Regions from separate parts of the Homo sapiens genome. Here region 2 is linked to region 1. Evidence: fine-mapped QTL for protein levels in blood plasma. A gene starts in region 1. The other region holds a variant in brackets. All regions are shown on one strand. Distances are between the middles of the regions.

Region 1 (8,340 bases):
GAGCTGGATGGTTCTCTCCATGGTCACACCGGCTCCAGGGAACGTCACCTGACAGGTGAGGTTGGTGCTGTGGTCCTGGGGCCGTGGGGTGATTGTGAGCACCGAGGACTGGGTGGTCCTGGGGCCCAGGGAGGTGGGGGCAGCTGACATCCAGGAGAAGATGGGGGGCGTCCCCTGCTCACAGACCCAGGGCACAGAGCAGGTCAGATTGCTGGGATGGCCAGACTCCAGGGTCCCTGGGATGGAGATGTTGGGCCTGTGGGTCAGGGCTGGTGAGGAGATGGGGACGCAGGATCAGGATGGAGGTCTGAGGTTTCACCCAGGGGGAAGCCCAGTCTCTGGTCCAGCTCCTTCTCTGAGCCCAACATGCTTAATTGTACCCGCCTCCCAAGACGGGGCTCCCGTCCCAGCCCTGCCCTACGGCCCCCATGACCTTCCCCTGTGGCTAGTCCTGGAGCTGGTTCCTTACCCATCACACGCACAGAGAGCTTGGAAGATGTATAACCGTATTTCATCCATTTGGACTTCAACCGAAAGAAGTATGCAGCATTGTCCCTCCTCCGGGCATCTCTGATGCTCAGGGAGCAGTTCTTCCTTCTGGGATCCCAGAGGAGGTGGAATCGGCCCCGGGTCTCCTCCTGCACTTCTTCGTCTGGGTCGTTTGTGGCCACTGGAACATCAGCCCCTTCCAGGAACCAGTAGCCATAACCATAGTACGAGGCTGGAAGGGTAGTGGGCAATCTGCAGGGTACGAGGACGCACAGACCCTCCTGCACCGTCAGTGACTCTGGCCCCTCCAGCTGGAATCTCCGCTCCTGAGCCAGGGCCCCTATGGAGACATGAGGGTCAGCTCGGCCCAGCCCCACGGCACCTCTCCCCTGGCCCACTCACCTGCCCACAGCAGGGGCAGCAGCAGCGGTAGCATCTCTGAGGCGGAGGCTTCCTGGGCTCCCTGCATGAGCAGAGAAGGGGAAGGGAGTGGAGGGGAAGGACTGCGGGGAGGAACGGGTGGCTGGGGAGGAGCGCGTGATCTCGGCTGTTCACAGAAGAGGAACTGCGAAGCCACAAGCCCTCGGAGCTCCACTCCCTCTGCACAGAGCAGACGGAAACTTTGAGACCCAGAGACCTGCCCAAAGAAGAGCAGAGGAGAAGAGACTGTGTCCCGCCTCCCACCTCGGGGCTTCCTGTGAGCAACAGAGCCCGGACCAGGGCCTCCCGGGGCATCTGAGGAATGCGAAACCTGTGTCCAAGGCCCTGCCCACCTGAGGTGCTTTTCTGTGCACCACTGTTTACACCTGGGAGCTGGTCACTCCTGGCCCCAGAGAGTCACAGCCTCATCCCACGCCATGAGAAAGTCAGTCCTGCAGGATATAGGATTCTGTAGGGTCTGTGGGAGTGTCTGGGACAGTGAAAGGAAGAAGGGTCCCAGGTGCAGTGTGGGTGATAGCCACTCATTCATTCACTCATTCATTCATTCATTCATTCATTCACCAAAGACATAGTGAGCATCTGTATGTAGGTCGGGCTGGAGAAGAGATGCCAGGGACCTGGTCCCTACCCTTGAGATGATCCCCATCCATAGCTTCCCATCCTCAGCACACACCCTCACTATCTAGCTTTAGAGCTGTGGACACTGGTGAGTTTGCCAAGTGACACAGTAGAATGCCAGATATTTTTTAAAACATGAGTATGGAGGTTTTTCCTTGACAGCTAGTACGCTGATTTACAAAATTTCAATGACATCTCCAAAATAAGAACCATGCAACATCTTCATGTAAATCAAAAAGGACACATATTTTATGAACTGCAGTGCAGAAGAAACTTCTTTTGAATTAATGTTGCCACTCAGTGCAGTGTGGACTGGAGAGATTTTTTTTTAGGTCCTCATCATAGAGATTAGCAATTTCTTTCCTGTGAAAAATCTGCTTCTCACAGTTAAATGTGGCACAAAAGACATATTTCTGGACAACGTGAGCAGAATATCCTGACAAAATTAAAATTTTTAGGTCTAGCTCACATGGTTTTCTATTTTCCTCTGTGCAGTATGCATCTGGCAAATCTCTAATACCTATGAGGTATTAGAATTTGCCACCATATATTTGTAAATTTTTTTATTTCTACAAACTTAAGGAGTAGATGTAAAATTTTTTTGCATGTATATAATGCGTAATGATTATGTCAGGATATTTAGAGTGTCCGTCACGTGAGTGCAATACATTCTTGTTAACTAAAATCACACTATTCTGCTCTCTAACGCTGAATTTATTCCTTTTAACTGTATGTTTGTAGCACTTCACTCACTTCTCTTCATCTTCTGTCCTCCCCCATCTGACCCTTTCCAGTCTCTGTTGTCTATCTTTCTACTGTCCACCTCCATGTGATAATATTTTTTTAGCTCCCACATGTAAGTGAGAACATGCAACATTTGTCTTTTTGTGTCTGACTTATTTCAATTTAGATAATGAATTCTAGTCCCATCCATGTTGCTGCAAATGACACGATTTCATTCTTTTTTATGGCCAAATAGCATGTATACTATATTTTCTTTATCCATTCATCTGTTAATTGACACTTAGGTTGGTTCCATATCTCTGATATTGTGAATAGTGCAGCAAAAATCATGTGAATGCAGGTATCTCTTTGATGTATTTCTTTCTTTCCCTTCGGGTAGATACCCAGTAGTGGGATTGCTTGAGTGATCGAATAGTAATTCTATTTTTAGTTCCTGAGAAATGTCCATAGTGTTTTCAAAAGTGGCTGTACTAGTTTAAATTCCCACCAACAGTACAGAAGAGTTATCTTTCTCCTCATCCTTGCCAAAATCTGTTATTTTTTGTTTTTTTAGTAATAGTCATTCTGACTGGGTAAGACGGTATCTCATTTTGGTTTAGATGTGCACTTCTCTGATGATTAGTGACGCTGACCATTTTGTCGTATTGGCTGTTCTTATGTATTCTTTGAGAACTGTCTATTCCTGTCCTTTGCCCACTTTTTACTTGGATTATTTGCTTTTTCCTGTTGAGTTGTTTGAGTTCCTTGTATAGTCTGGATATTAGTCTCCTGTCAGAAGAATAGTTTGCGAATATTTTCTCCAATTCAACAGGTTGTTTCTTCACTCTAATTATTTCTTTTCCTGGCAGAAGCTTTTTGTTTATTAAGTCCCATTTGTTTATTTTTGTTTTTGTTGCCTGTGCTTTTCAGAACTTAGTCATAATTTCTGACTCTTCTGACCAATGTTCAAAAGAGTTTTCCCTAGGTTTTCTTGTAGCTGTTTTTTTTTTTTATAGTTTTGGGTCTTACATTTAAGTGTATGATTCATTTTGAGTTTTTTTTTAATATGGTGAGAGAGAAGAATCCAGTTTCATTCTTTTGTGTGTGGGTATACAATTTTCCCAGCACCATTTATTGAAGAAGGTGTCCTTTCCTCAATATAAGTTCTTGTCAGTTTTGTTGACAATCAATTGGCTGTATACATGTGGCCTTATTTCTGGGTTATATTCCATTGGTCTATGTATCTATTTCTATACCAATATCATGCTGTTTTGGTTATTATAGCCTTGTAATATACTTTGAAGTCAGGTAAAGTGATACCACCAGCTTTGTTCTTTTTTCTCCGGATAGCTTTGGCTATTCAGGTTCTTTTTGGATCCATATGAATTTTATAATTGTTTTTTACAATTCTGTGAAGACTGACATTGGTATTTTCATATGGATTACATTAAATCTTTAGATTGCTATAGACCAGTGTGGGCTTCTTAACTATCTTAATTCTTCCAGTCATGAGTATGGGATGTTTTTCCATTTGTTTGTGTCATCTTCAATTTCTTTCATCAGTGTTTTTTAGTTTTTCCTGTATAGATTTTCACCTGGTAGGTCATTAAGAGCATATTGTTTAATTTCCATACATTTGTCTTGTTTCCAGAGTTCCTCTTGGTGCTGACTTGTTGTTTTGTTCCATTGTGGTCTGAGTATACATTGAGTAAATATTGATTTTTTTTTTAATTTATAGAGACTTATTTCGTAGCCGAATATATGGTGTATCCTGGAGAATGTTTCATGTACTGATGAAAAGAATATGTATTCTGCAGTTGTTGGGTAGAAGTTCTGTAAAAGTCTGTTAGTTCCATTTGGTCTATAGTGTAGTTTAAATGTGATGTTTGTTTGTTGATTTTCTGTCTAAGTGATCTGTCTTACTGAGAATAGGGTGGTGAAGCTTCCCACCATTATTGTATTGCATTCTATCTCTCTCTTTAGATCTAGTAATATTTGCTTTATAGATATGGCTGCTCCATTGCTGGGTGCATATATATTTAGAATTGTTATATCCTCTTGCTGGGTTGATCCCTTCATCATTATATAATGACCTTCTTTGTCTTTTTCTACTGCTCTTGACCTAAGGTCTGTTTTATCTAAGTATAGTTACTGCTGCTTACTATTGGTTTCCATTTGTGTGGAATATCTTTCTCCATCCTTTTACTTTTGGTCTATATGTGTCTTTTCTTAAGGTGTGTTTCTTTAAGCTGCACACTGTTGAGTCATTTTTAAAATCCATTCAGCCATTCTATATCTTTTAAGAGGATACTTTAATCCATTTACATACATGGTTATTATTGATTTGTGAGGCTTTCTTTCTGTCAGGTTATTAAACATTTTCTTGTTTTAAACATTCGTTGTTTCTTTCCTTTTATCTTATTGTTTGTCCTTGTGATTTGGTGGATTTCTGTAGTGGTACCATTTGAGTCCTTTCTAGTTCTCATTTGCATGATTGCTTTACCAGTGAATTTTTTACTTTCATATGTTTTCGTGATGATAAAATCATCCTTTTGCTTCCAGGTTTAGGACTCCTTTGAGTATTTTTTCCAAGGCTGGTCTAGTGGTAATAAATTTCATCAGCATTTGTTTGTCTTGGGATGAATCTATTTCTCTTTTATTTATGAAGAATAGTTTCTTTGCATGTTCTGTGGTGGCAGTTATTTTTTCTTTTAGCACTTAGAATATATCAGTTCCTTCTTTTCTGGTGTGTAAGGTTTCTACTGAGAAATCTGCTCTTAGTCAAATGGAATTTCCTTTAGAGGTAGCTAGATGCTTTTCTCTTGCTATTTGTAGAATTTGCTCTTTAACTTTGACTTCACACAGTCTGACTATAATGTGCCAAGGAGAAGACCTTTTGCATTGGGGATCTGCCCGGGGATCATTGGGCCTTCTGTATCTCTATACCTAAATCTTTTGTTAGACTTGGGATGTTTTCATGTATTATTTTGCTGAGTAGGTTTTCCAATATTTCTTTGTTTTTTCACCCTTAGAGATACCAGTAATTTATAAATTCCATTGCTTTTTGTTGTCCTAAATGTTATTAAGGCTATGCTCATTATTTTTTGTACTTTTCCCTTTATTTTTGTCTGACTAGATTATTTCAAAAAACCTGTCTTCAAGTTCCAAGATTCTTCTGCCAGATTTAGTCTATTATTGAACTTTTCAAATGTGTTTTGCATTTCCTTCAATTAACTATTCAGTTCCAGAATTTATATTTGGTTATTTTAAAAAATATATATCTCTTTGATCATTTTCTCATTTATACCCTGAATTGTTTTTCTGGTTTCCATAGTATTGATTTTCAGAATTCTGTTGTATCTCACTGAGCTTCTTTAACATCAATATTTTGAATTCTTTGTCTGGAATTTCAAAAATTTCTTTGTGATTAAGATCTATTTCTGCAGAATTCTTGTGTTCCTTTCCTTGCTGTTTCATGTTTCCTGTGTCCTTATGTTAAAATCTGTGCATCTAGTATAACAGTAGCTTCTTCCTATTTTTTAATTTACTTTCATAGAGGACATTTCTTTTTTTTTTCATGGTCCAAGCATGTGGTGATTTTTATTAAGAATAACTTTGGTTCTAAGAATTCCACTCTCAATTCTTTAATGCTTTCTGTTAAAAACAATTATACAACGGCAAATACAAAAAATATTAAATTATGAAAACCAATCCATTAAGGCTCCCTTTATATATAATATACACTCAAACAAGTCAAGATTTTTCAGAGTAGAAGAATAAAATCAACTGTTATAGCTTAGAAAGCAACACTACTACTATGAGACTATAAAACATTGAACTACTTTAAGAAAATCACAATGTGGAAAAATGGAGCCTTTTTTTTTATCAAAAAGTGGCTCAAAGCACAAAACTGCTCAGATGTTCAAGGGTCCCAGGGGTTTGGGCTGCACAGTGTTAAGGGGAGAGAGGAGACTGACAGCCTGTTTGAATCAGGCTTGTGAGCCCAGCCCATCTGACAATTTCAAAGAGCTTCTCTGCCTAAACATTCCACCGTTTAGTATAAGACACCACTTTACGCTATTTACAAGTCTCCTTTTGGCCAGCCTTTGTATTATTAATTACAAATAATTCTGCAGATTTGAGTGAGATTAGGAAAGAAATGCTTTCTTAATTAACTTTTTTTTTCAGTGAACAATTAATTCTAGTTAAGCTCTAGGAACAGAATTGGTCCTTATAAAGGAGCCTATCAGGGCCCTTGAGAATACGATCAAGTGGCAGAATTGCTTTGAGAATACGGATTTCAAGATCTGACATCTAGTTAGATAAAAAGATATGAGCCAGTCCCGAATAGAAGACATTTCTTGAAAATGTATCTACGTTGCTTGTTTGGTGGGGTGCTTTGGCTTTGATTCTGTGTATGTGCAGTAGTGTACTTTCTGTATATTTCTTTGACTGTAAACAGCATTAGTGATATGTGTGATTTCTTTGGCTAGTTGGAGCATGGTTATTAGTGGAGAATATGGTAAAGTTGTGCTAGGGACAGGGATGCTGAGCGGGAGAGTCTTCAGGTCCCCAGCTTTGGCATCAGTGGGCTGAGCATCTATCTTTTTGCCCCAGGGTGGTATATGCTGGCTTCTCTGTTGGCAGTTACCAGTGGGTTGATTCTTGGGCTTTCAGGTTGCTCATTTGGATGCTCATAGTAGCACCAATGGATCAAGCAATTGTGTGGGTTTTCAGGCCCCTGGGCAGCCAGCATGGCATTGACAATAGCAATAGCATGGGCAAGATGATTCTATGAGTCCCAAGTGATGTGCATTAATGTTGGTGCTGGCTGCAATGGGCTGGACAAGACAGCCTTTGGACCCACAGTTGGCACTTGCAGGTAGGCGCCAGGCAAGGTAGTAGCAGCCAGAAGTTTAGATCCAACCTCAAGCCCCCAGAAGAAGTGCTCAGGTGCCCAAGGTAGTGAATTGGGTCGAGCAATCCGCAGGACCCTGGGCTATGTGCTCTGTCTCAGAGCGGGAGAGGTGAGGTGAAGCTGAGCTAGATGGGTTTGTGCTCAGGTCCTCAATGTTGACAGCAGGCACTCGTCATTGTGGGCAGGGTCAGAGCAATCGTCGGGTCCCAGGCAGAGGATTACTGAAGAGGGTAGGGCCATCTTGAGTGGTCATAGCCTGGGTCAGTTGAAGGTGGCGGAAGAACATATGTCCCTTTCACACTCCAGTCCTGGAGGGGCTCGACACCCCCCCTCACCCTGGTTGCTGGAGCTCCCATCTGGCTTGCAAACAAGTTCCAATGGCAATTTGTGCCCCTCTTGCATCCTTGTCTCAGATCCTGGCAGTGCTTGCTTCACAGCCACAGCTGACCAAACCTTGCTCACTTTCTAGCCCCACCTGCAGGAGCACTCCTGGTTCGATCTCCTGTCCCAGCAGCAATAGCTTGAGTTTCTGTAATGCCCCAGTTTCAGTGTCTCTGGGTCCTTGAACAGCATACAATTTCCAGAGGACAAGCTTGAAAATGCTTAAGTGTCAGAAAGGTGTGGAACCCAGCAGGAGTTCCCTTCCCGGAGTAGTTCTGTCCAATGGTGTCCTGACTCTCTATGTTAGTTTCATAGGGTTGAGTGCTTCTCCCTTGGCCAGGATTGCTGAATTCCGCCATGGAGATGTGGATGACTGGAAATCCCTAACTCAGTCCTTTGTGCATGGGAAGTCACTCCCAGCTCCCAGCCAATCCCAGCCAGGGAGGCTGCCTCTTTTCCTTCTCCTTCCCTGTTTTTGATGTCCTCTGCCACTTCTCTGGTGGATTCCAGGATTTTCCCTTGGATAATGTAATTCGACTGTGACTGTCTATACATTACTCTGGTTCTTCTAAGTGGAGGAGGCAGGCATGAAATGCTTCTAGTTAGTCGTCTTGAACTACACTACCCTTATTTGAACAATTTTTAAACACAGTAGTATCTAGATAAATATTCATTCATCCTTACTAAAATAAGAGAGCTAGTTTTACCTTTATTTGATATATAAGTAATTGAGCCACCAATAAGTATAATACCTGTCCTAGATTATCTTT
Region 2 (8,342 bases), 47 kb before region 1:
CCCTCAGGAGTGCCACCTCCACTGTGCCATGACATGCTCTCAACCTCTGGGTGAAATCTCCCAGTTCTCTGAGGTCTGGGTCCAAAGCTGCCTCCTCTGTGAATCCTCTGGAGTCCTCAGATCAGAGTCAGGGTGACTCCCAGGGGGATAAGAGTAGCAGACATTGGCTGAGCACTTACTATGTGCCCGCCTTTGTTCTAACCTGTGTGACTCTCACCATTTCTCTGGAGTAAGTGAATGCGATTGGCATCACCTCCATTTGACAGGTGAGAAACTGAGCCCCATGGAGTTTGAGTGCTTATTCAAGGCTCTATTGCTTTGTAACCCATGGAAGAGGTGGCATTCAAGCCCAGGCAGGCATAGCCTACACCCTCAACTGCTCCCTTCAGCTGCTTCAAGATGAGGAATTAGAAAGACGCAGGGACGGGATGGGTGGACGGGGAGTAGAGATTTGGCATGGCCATGGCGTCAGAAACTTGGCTTGGGAGTGAATTTGTAAATGGGGAAAGCATCTTCTTAGCAACCATGCGTCCAATCTTCTGCATCAAGGAGAGAGACTGATGTGCTCAGGGAGACTGCAGAGGAGTGCAGCAGGTAAATGCAGGGGCTCTACAGCCCAAGGTTCTTGGTCCAAATCCCCATTCTGCTGCTGCCTATCTCCATGAACCTGGGACAAGCAGCTCCATCGTTCCGAGACTCAGTTTCCTCAACTGTAATGAAAGGATAAGAATCCCTGCAGGGAAAGGGTGCTGTGAGAATAAAATGAAACTGTGCAAGAAAGTACAGAAGACATTACAGGATGTGGTCTCCAGACTTTACTTCAGCCACACTACCTCCTAAGCACCTACTATGCACCAGACACGATGTGTGCATGCAGCCCTCCAAGTCATCGATTCACATTTTTCTCTTCCCCTGGACTACAAGATTCAGGAGGGCAGAAGCTGGGGAAGCTTTTTTTTTTTTTTTAACAGAGTCTCGCTCTGTTGCCCAGGCTGGATGCAGTGGTGCAATCTCTGCTCACTGCAACCTGCACCTCCCGGACTCAAGTGATTCTCCTGCCTCAGCCTCTTGAGTAGCTGGGATTACAGGCACACGCCACTGTGCCCAGCTAATTTTTGTATTTTTACAAAATAGAGTAGAGATGGGGTTTCACCATGTTGCCCAGGCTGGTCTTGAACTCTTGACCTCAGGTGATCCACCTTGGGCGAGCTTTCTGTTTTCCATTTGTCCTCAGTGCTTGGCACAGTGTGTAGCACATAGTTGGTGCTCAGTGAACATTTATGCAATGAGTTAATGACCCTGTGTCACACACCCCCCTTCCAGTCACTGTCTCTCCCCTTATGAGGGTTTATTCTTCTCTATTCACTTATGGTTGCTTGCAGTGTGAGACATCTCTTTGCTTAATTGTCCACTGTCCACTTCCCAGCTAGAATGTCAGGCCCATGGGTACAGGGAGTTTGTTTTGTTGGCTGCTGAATCCCTCGTACCTGGAACAGTGCTTTGCTGATAATAGATGTTGACAAATCTTTGAAGAATGGATATGTGGGTGGGTGAAGAGATGAGTGAATGCATGAATGGGTCAATCGTGGTCCTGACCCCCAGGTGTCCTCTTCCTTCAGGGATCTTACCTGTTGTCCACAGAGATTTCTCCATCTCAGGATCCATGGTGATGTTCCTCATCATGCTGACAGTGCTGGGTGGCGTTTACATCTGTGGAGTCCTGATCCATGCTCTGATCAACCACTACTCAATCAGGTGCCCTCATTGCTCTGGGACAAGGGTGGGATGTTGGCTGGGGGCTGGGACTCAGGAGCCAGCCCTCCCTCCAGAGGGGAAGCAGAGCCAGAAGGGGAGGGATAAGCCAGGAACTAGGTTGTCAGGGATCATCTGGGGCAGACAGATCAGCCCCCAGGACCTGAAGCTGATGGGAGCAAGAGAGGGTTTAGAGTCGGCCATGGTTCTAAATAGCTGTGGGGTTTCTTCTAGCAACTTCCCTTCTCTTTGTGTTTATAAGGGATATTAAGGTTTACCTAGAGGGACAGGTAAAAAAATGAGAGGTCTGCATGTCAATTCCTGGTACATAGTCATCCTTTGCTACCAAGTGAAGTTGGGGAAACAGGTATCAGCGGTGAACTATGCAGGGAGAAGAGATTGGGCAGTGGGATGGTTAAGGTCTGGGTTCAAACCCCAGCTCTGCTACCTGTAGGCTAGGTTACCTTGGGTAGGTCACTTCTCCTCATAGCTCATCCTCAGCCCAGCTGAAGAATGAACGGAGCAACAACTGCCTGAAGGGTGATGTGGGGATTAGAGACACGTCTTGGAGGAAAAGGGGACTTGCAGCATTCTCAGCATAGAGTAGACCAGAGTTTCTCAACCTCAGCACTATCAGCATTGGGACCATAATTCTCTGATGGGGAAGAGGAGGTAGTAAGGCTGTCCTGTGCATTGTGGGACATTTAGCCGCATAACTGGCCTTTTTCCATTAGATGCTAGTGGTAACAACCACCACCACCCCAGTTCAGAAAACCAAAAATGTCTCTAGACACTATGAAGATCACATGGGAGGCAACTTTGCCCTGGTTGAGAGTCAGTGGAGTAGATGTTAGAAAGTGCAGTGATGCTTGGGAGGATGATGACGTTAATGATGGAGATAATGGTACCAATGGTGATGGTGGTGATTATAGTGGGAATGGCAATGATGATGTAGATTAATAGTGGAAATGGCATTATTGTGATGGTGATGATGGTGATGATAGTAATAGTGGTGGTGGTGATAGTGGTGATGATGATGATGACAAAGATGATGGTAGTGTTGCTAGTGATGGTGACATTGGTAGTGATGATGACAATGGTGATGATGATGGCCATAATGGTGACAATAGTATTATGGTGATGATGTTGGTGATGGTGGTGCTAATGATGACGGTAGCAAATGCAGTGCTGATGGTGATGATTATGATGAAGCACAATGCCTATATTTTTCTGTGAGCTCTGGGGTGACAGGCAGGCCTCTGAGCCTTAAAAACAATCCTAGACCAAGGGTGCAGCTGGGTCAGCAGGTTGCATCATTGTGCCCGGAGGAAGCTGTTTCTTAGGGGATTTTCCAAGGTCAGGGACCGCATCTCCTTCCTACTAAGACTGTAGTAGGAGCAGCCGATGGAACTACTTGAGCCCCCTGGTCTAGGAAGGAGAGCCCTCATCTCTAGGGGCCAGTCTCCTTCACCTGAGATCAACATGCCTAGTGACAGCTCAGTCCTCAAGGACTCTCACATATGCCTAGGTGTCCTGCAGAACAAAACTTTTGTTTATTGAGCTAATTTTCTTTTTTCTTTTTCTTTCTTTCTTTCTTTTCTTTCTTTTTTTTTTTTTATATGGAGTCTCTCTCTGTTGCCCAGGCTGGAGTGCAGTGGCGCGATCTCAGCTCACTGCAAGCTCCGCCTCCCAGGTTCATGCCATTCTCCTGCCTCAGCCTCCCAAGTAGCCAGGACTACAGGCGCCCGCCACCACACCTGGCTAATTTTTTTGTTTTTTTTTTTAGTAGAGACGGGGTTTCACCGTGTTAGCCAGGATGGTCTTGATCTCCTGACCTCGTGATCCGCCCGCCTCAGCATCCCAAAGTGCTGGGGTTACAGGCATAAGCCACCGCGCCTGGCCTTATTGAGCTAATTTTCATCTAAAATTTTAAACTAAATGAAAATGTAATTGAAATATAAACTGTGAGATCAAAATTATATTGAAAGTTCATCTAATTGAAAGATTAAACATTAAGTAAGATTTAGTACCTGTTTCATTTAATATTAAATTGAATTTAAACTGTGAAGAAATGGCCAGGCATGGTAGCTCATGCCTGTAATCCCAACATTTTGGGAGGCTGAGGCAAGCAGATTACTTGAGCCCAGGAGTTCAAGACCAGCCTGGGCAACGTGGTGAAACCTCATCTCTACAAAAAATACAAAAGTTAGCCTGGAGTGGTGGAGTGCTTCTGGAGTTCCAGCTACTCAGGAGGCTGAGGTGGGAGGATCTCTTGAGCCCGAGAGGCAGAGGCTCAGTGAGCCGAGATCGTGCCACTGCACTCCAGCCTGGGCAACAGACACCCTGTATAAAAAATAAATAAATAGGCCAGGCACAGTGGCTGAAGCCTGTAATCCCAGCATGTTGGAAGGCCAAGGCGGGCGGATCATCAGGTCGGGAGTTCGAGACCAGCCTGGCCAACATAGTGAAATCCCGTCTCTA[C/T]TAAAAATACAAAAAATTAGCCAAGTGTGATGGCAGTCACCTGTAATCCCAGTTACTTGGGAGGCTGAGGCAGGAGAATCACTTGAACCTGGGAGATTCAAGTGCAGTTCAAGTGCAGGTTGCAGTGAGTCGAGATCACACCATGGCACTCCAGCCTGGGCGACAGTGCGAGACTCCATCTCAAAAATAAATAAGTAAATAATCTGTGAAGAAAAGGCCTGTAACATGAATTAACCAATATGGTAGCCACTAGTCATACGTGACTAAGTTTAAAATGAATTAAAATTAAATAAGTAAAAAATCCAGCTCCTCAGTCACACCAGCTCATGGCTATGAGATTGGACGGTGCCAATATAGACCATTTCGTCATTGCCAAAAGTTCTACCGGACAGCACTGCTGTAAACCAATTATGTAGAATGTTCTTAAAGAGTAAAAACAAAACCAAACAAAACCAGAAAAAGTAGAAAGAGACAACCACTAGTCCCTCCTCTGTCCCTCACCCCAACCCCAGGAACTATGCTGCATGGGAAGAGAAGAGAGCTCGAGGTGGAAACAGAATTCTCATATTCAGGGAAGAGCAGAGAAAAGGGGATTGCAAAAGCAGATGGAGAGAGTGGCCATGACATAGTGGGGAGGGGCTCAGGTCAAGGGCAGAAACAGAATGATATGATGGTATTAATAACAATCTCTGAGATTTTATGATGTGCTTACTGTGTACCAACCCTTGTTCCAAGGTATTTACTAGTAAGAGCTTACTTTATCCCCATAGGAGATATCCCTGTGAGGTTGGGACCAGTATTAGTTCCATTTTACACATAGCAAGTAAAGCACAGACAGGCTGACTCCCTGCTATCTCACTGTATGGTCAATGTTGTAGGCTCCTTTGCTAAGGGACCATGTAATAATCATAAATAGGTTCAATATCTAAATACAAGACCTCGCCTGGGAGGTCAGCGAGGTCTTGGAAATGCAGGGTTGTTGGCTAGTCTTCAAGAGAGGTCTCAAGACAAAAGGTCTCAGAGAATTCAGCTGAGAAGGGGTGGGCCCCTGCCTTAGGGTGGGCTCCTCCCTGGGGGCAGGCCCCTCCTGGACCTGGAACCACATTCTTCACAAGGGCTGCAGAAGGTGCCAGAGTTTGGAGTGGGGCAGGGAACTCATGTGGACAGGGCTCCAGAATCCCTCCTCATTCCCCTAAGAGCAGGGCCATTTCTGTTTTACGGAATGGATTCCATCCAGGGGTGCATTTTTGCTTTTGTGGGCCCTCCTCTAGAAAAATATTAAAAATTATATTTTACGACTATCTTGATATAAACATGTATAAAATATAGGGTGGGTTGTATTCAGTTTTTTTCCTTCTGATTTTAGAAGAAATTGAAACATTTTTGTGATCCCTAAAAGTATAATGGGCCTTAGTGCTTCTGTCCATAATGATCCTGCTTCCACTCGAATTTCTTCAGACGAAAAGTTTCCAGGGGTTTCTATCCTTGTGTTCAAAGTCATTGATGGAGACTGAATGAGGGACAAATGAATGAGTCACTGAGGTTGACTTAATGTCAACCTCATCATCCAAAGTGAAATTTTGGATGATTAGGTTGACATTAAGTCAACCTCAGTGACTCATTCATTTGTCTCTCATTCAGTTTCTCGGTCCCCCCACATTTCACCAAGCTCCTGGCTTTATTCTTGGGCCTCTGATGAACAAAAGATGAACAAACTGCTTTCCCTGCCCCCAGTAATATCACAGCTACCACGATCCAGCCCCCTCTTTCAGCTCCCCTTCTCCCTCCCCAAAAGATCACCCTGGAGTTACTCATATTTTAATCATGATTGGATCTGGATACCACCCAAAAGGCACAGGAGTGGCATTTCCTAGAATAAATGGTGGGGCAAGAGGGAGCTGAGGAGACACACAGCATACGTGTATGCGTTTTCACTATGTTATCTAAAGATTTTAGAAGATACATCTTCAATTATCTTAATATTTAGATATTGAGCCTATTTATGATTATTATATGGTCCCTTCACCAAGGAGCCTACAATGTCGACCATACAGTGAGATAGCAGGCAATCGGCCTGACTGTGCTTTACTTGCCATGTGTAAAATGGAACTAACACTGGTCCAAACCTCACAGGGATATCTCCTATGGGGATAAAGTAAGCTCTTAGTAGTAATTACCTTGGAAGAAGGGTTGGTACACAGTAAGCACTTCATAAAATCTCAGATATTATTATTAATGCCATCATATTATTCAATGTGCAATTCTAAACTGATTGTGATAAACTCAAGAAAGTTCAAGGGTATTTCAAAGAGTGTATCTGAATCACCTCATCTTCCACCACCTGGAAGAACCCCCCTGGCCTGGCAGAACCACCTCCACGCCACTGTCCCATTCCTTTCAAAGGCGCCATGTTCTCTATGGTCTGGGGCCTCCCCTCCGATATGAGAGCAGGGATCTGGAATCAGAGAAGCCAGTTTGGGAATATTGGCCTCTGTTATGTTCTGGCTGTGTGACCTGGGGCAAGTAACATCACCTCTCTGGACCCTCATTTCTTCATCTGCAAATGGGTTAAAGTATCTGTCTTGCTTGGCTGTTGGGAGGGTTAAAGATAACCCTGTCATAAGTTATAGTGCCTGGCATATAATTGGTATGAAGTAAATTACTGTTATTACCTCCATCATTGTTGTGATCCCTCATAATTAGGCCAACAGTGCCCACTCCTTCCTCAGCTTCACCCGGCCTCTTTCTCCCCACACAGTGGCATCTTCCTCCAGTGCCCTCGGAAATCTTTAAAAGTATGGAGATGTTGAGGACTCTCGGTGCAGAGGTGCAGCCCTCAGACCATCTCCTCCATTGGGTCCCATGTGAGGAAGACTTAGGCTTGGACTTGGTGGGAAGTCGGGCCCCTTCACCTCTCTCTATCCAGGACTCTCCCATGTTTCTTAGGGACCTGAGATGTGGCTTCTTCCCTGATTTCTCCCCATAGGACAAATCGGGCTCCATGAGTGTCCACCCCAGACCTGAGGACAAGACCAGAAGGGCAAGCAGGTGAGGAGAGGGTGATGGAGAAGGGCTGGGGGTCCCCATAGGGCCAGCGAGGCTGAAAAGGGTCCAGGGTCTCTTTGGAGGGTACTGGCAAGAGAGGGACCCAGCCCAGTCACACGGAAGCCTGGAGATGGAGGCTCCAGTAGGAGGTCTGCAGACCCCACCCGGGACCTGAAGATGATGTCGTGGGTAGCGTGGCCATTGGGCGCTTCATCTGCCAATCAGAGCTGGTCAATGGGTTGCAGGTCGGGGCGGGCCATGCGCAAAGCTGGGCTCTAATTCCAAGCGCCTCCTCCCTCAGCTCCGGCGCTTCCAGCTTCTCAGATTTCTTCACCCATGGAATCAACAGCGATGCTGTAAACTTATGGCCAAGGGGTGCCAATCAGTGGTTGTTCCACTCAGTGCCGAATGAGAGAAGAGACCTTAGAATCAGGCAGGGATTAAATTTCAGTCCTGCCCTGAGTACCGGAGCGACCTGAACGCAGCCCCAGTGAGGCTCCCTCACCTGGATGCACCGTGGAACCATCGTCAGCATGATTAGCACATCCGTCAGCTCAAATATTTAATTTTTTTTTTTTTTTGGTGACAACATTTAAACTCCTCTCTTTTAGCCATTTTGAAATATTCAATACATTATTCTGTTATTTGGAACAACACGGATGAACCTAGAGAACATTATGTTGAGTGAAATAAGCCAGGTACAGAGAGACAAACACTCTACGATCTCACTATATTTGGAACCTAAAATAGTCGACCTCAGAGAAGTAGAGAAGAGAATGGTGGGTACCAGAGGCCGGGGGCGGGGAGTGTGGACCGATTGGATGGAGAAAGGGAGAGTTTGGTCATCAGGCACGCATTTTCAGTTTGACAAGAGGAATAAGTTCTGATGTCCTGTTGCACAGCATGGAGGGCTGTTAATTCTAAAGGAATCAGTCTCGGGCTTCTTTGCTGCAGGGGTCGTGAGCCCTCAAACAGGCCTGAGTCTCTGCAGTTTCTCACTTGGGGATGTTGATCTCGGAGTACTCATAGCCGATGGCCTCCTGTTCCTGTGGGTACTGAGGCCT

Direction of the effects. Alleles are on the strand shown, and positions count from the first base shown. The strength of an association depends on the size of the effect and on how common the allele is.
As copies of C replace T in region 2, the plasma level of the protein whose gene starts at base 980 in region 1 goes up (weak association).

Evidence for each region. PIP is the posterior inclusion probability: the model's chance that the variant is causal. The UK Biobank Pharma Proteomics Project read protein levels with antibody pairs (Olink). The fine-mapping took linkage between variants from a reference panel, not from the people measured, so its PIPs are less certain.
Region 2: its variant is fine-mapped to the plasma level of the SIGLEC6 protein (UK Biobank, PIP above 0.99).

The regions. Positions count from the first base shown.
Region 1 is chr19:51,530,691-51,539,030 of GRCh38, forward strand. SIGLEC6 (sialic acid binding Ig like lectin 6) reads right to left here and starts at 980. Exons shown (of 8, transcript NM_001245.7): 1 at 892-980; 2 at 470-829; 3 at 1-269. The coding sequence starts at 958.
Region 2 is chr19:51,483,368-51,491,709 of GRCh38, forward strand. CEACAM18 (CEA cell adhesion molecule 18) reads left to right here. Exons shown (of 6, transcript NM_001405061.1): 5 at 1,620-1,755; 6 at 7,220-7,934. The coding sequence ends at 7,285. It overlaps SIGLEC12 (sialic acid binding Ig like lectin 12), which reads right to left. Exons shown (of 8, transcript NM_053003.4): 8 at 7,860-8,342. The coding sequence ends at 8,274. Among named protein-coding and RNA genes, the nearest start is that of CEACAM18, 9.0 kb to the left of the region's middle. RefSeq lists silencers at 3,952-4,111, 5,355-5,535. The variant C/T (reference allele first, on the strand shown) is at 4,234.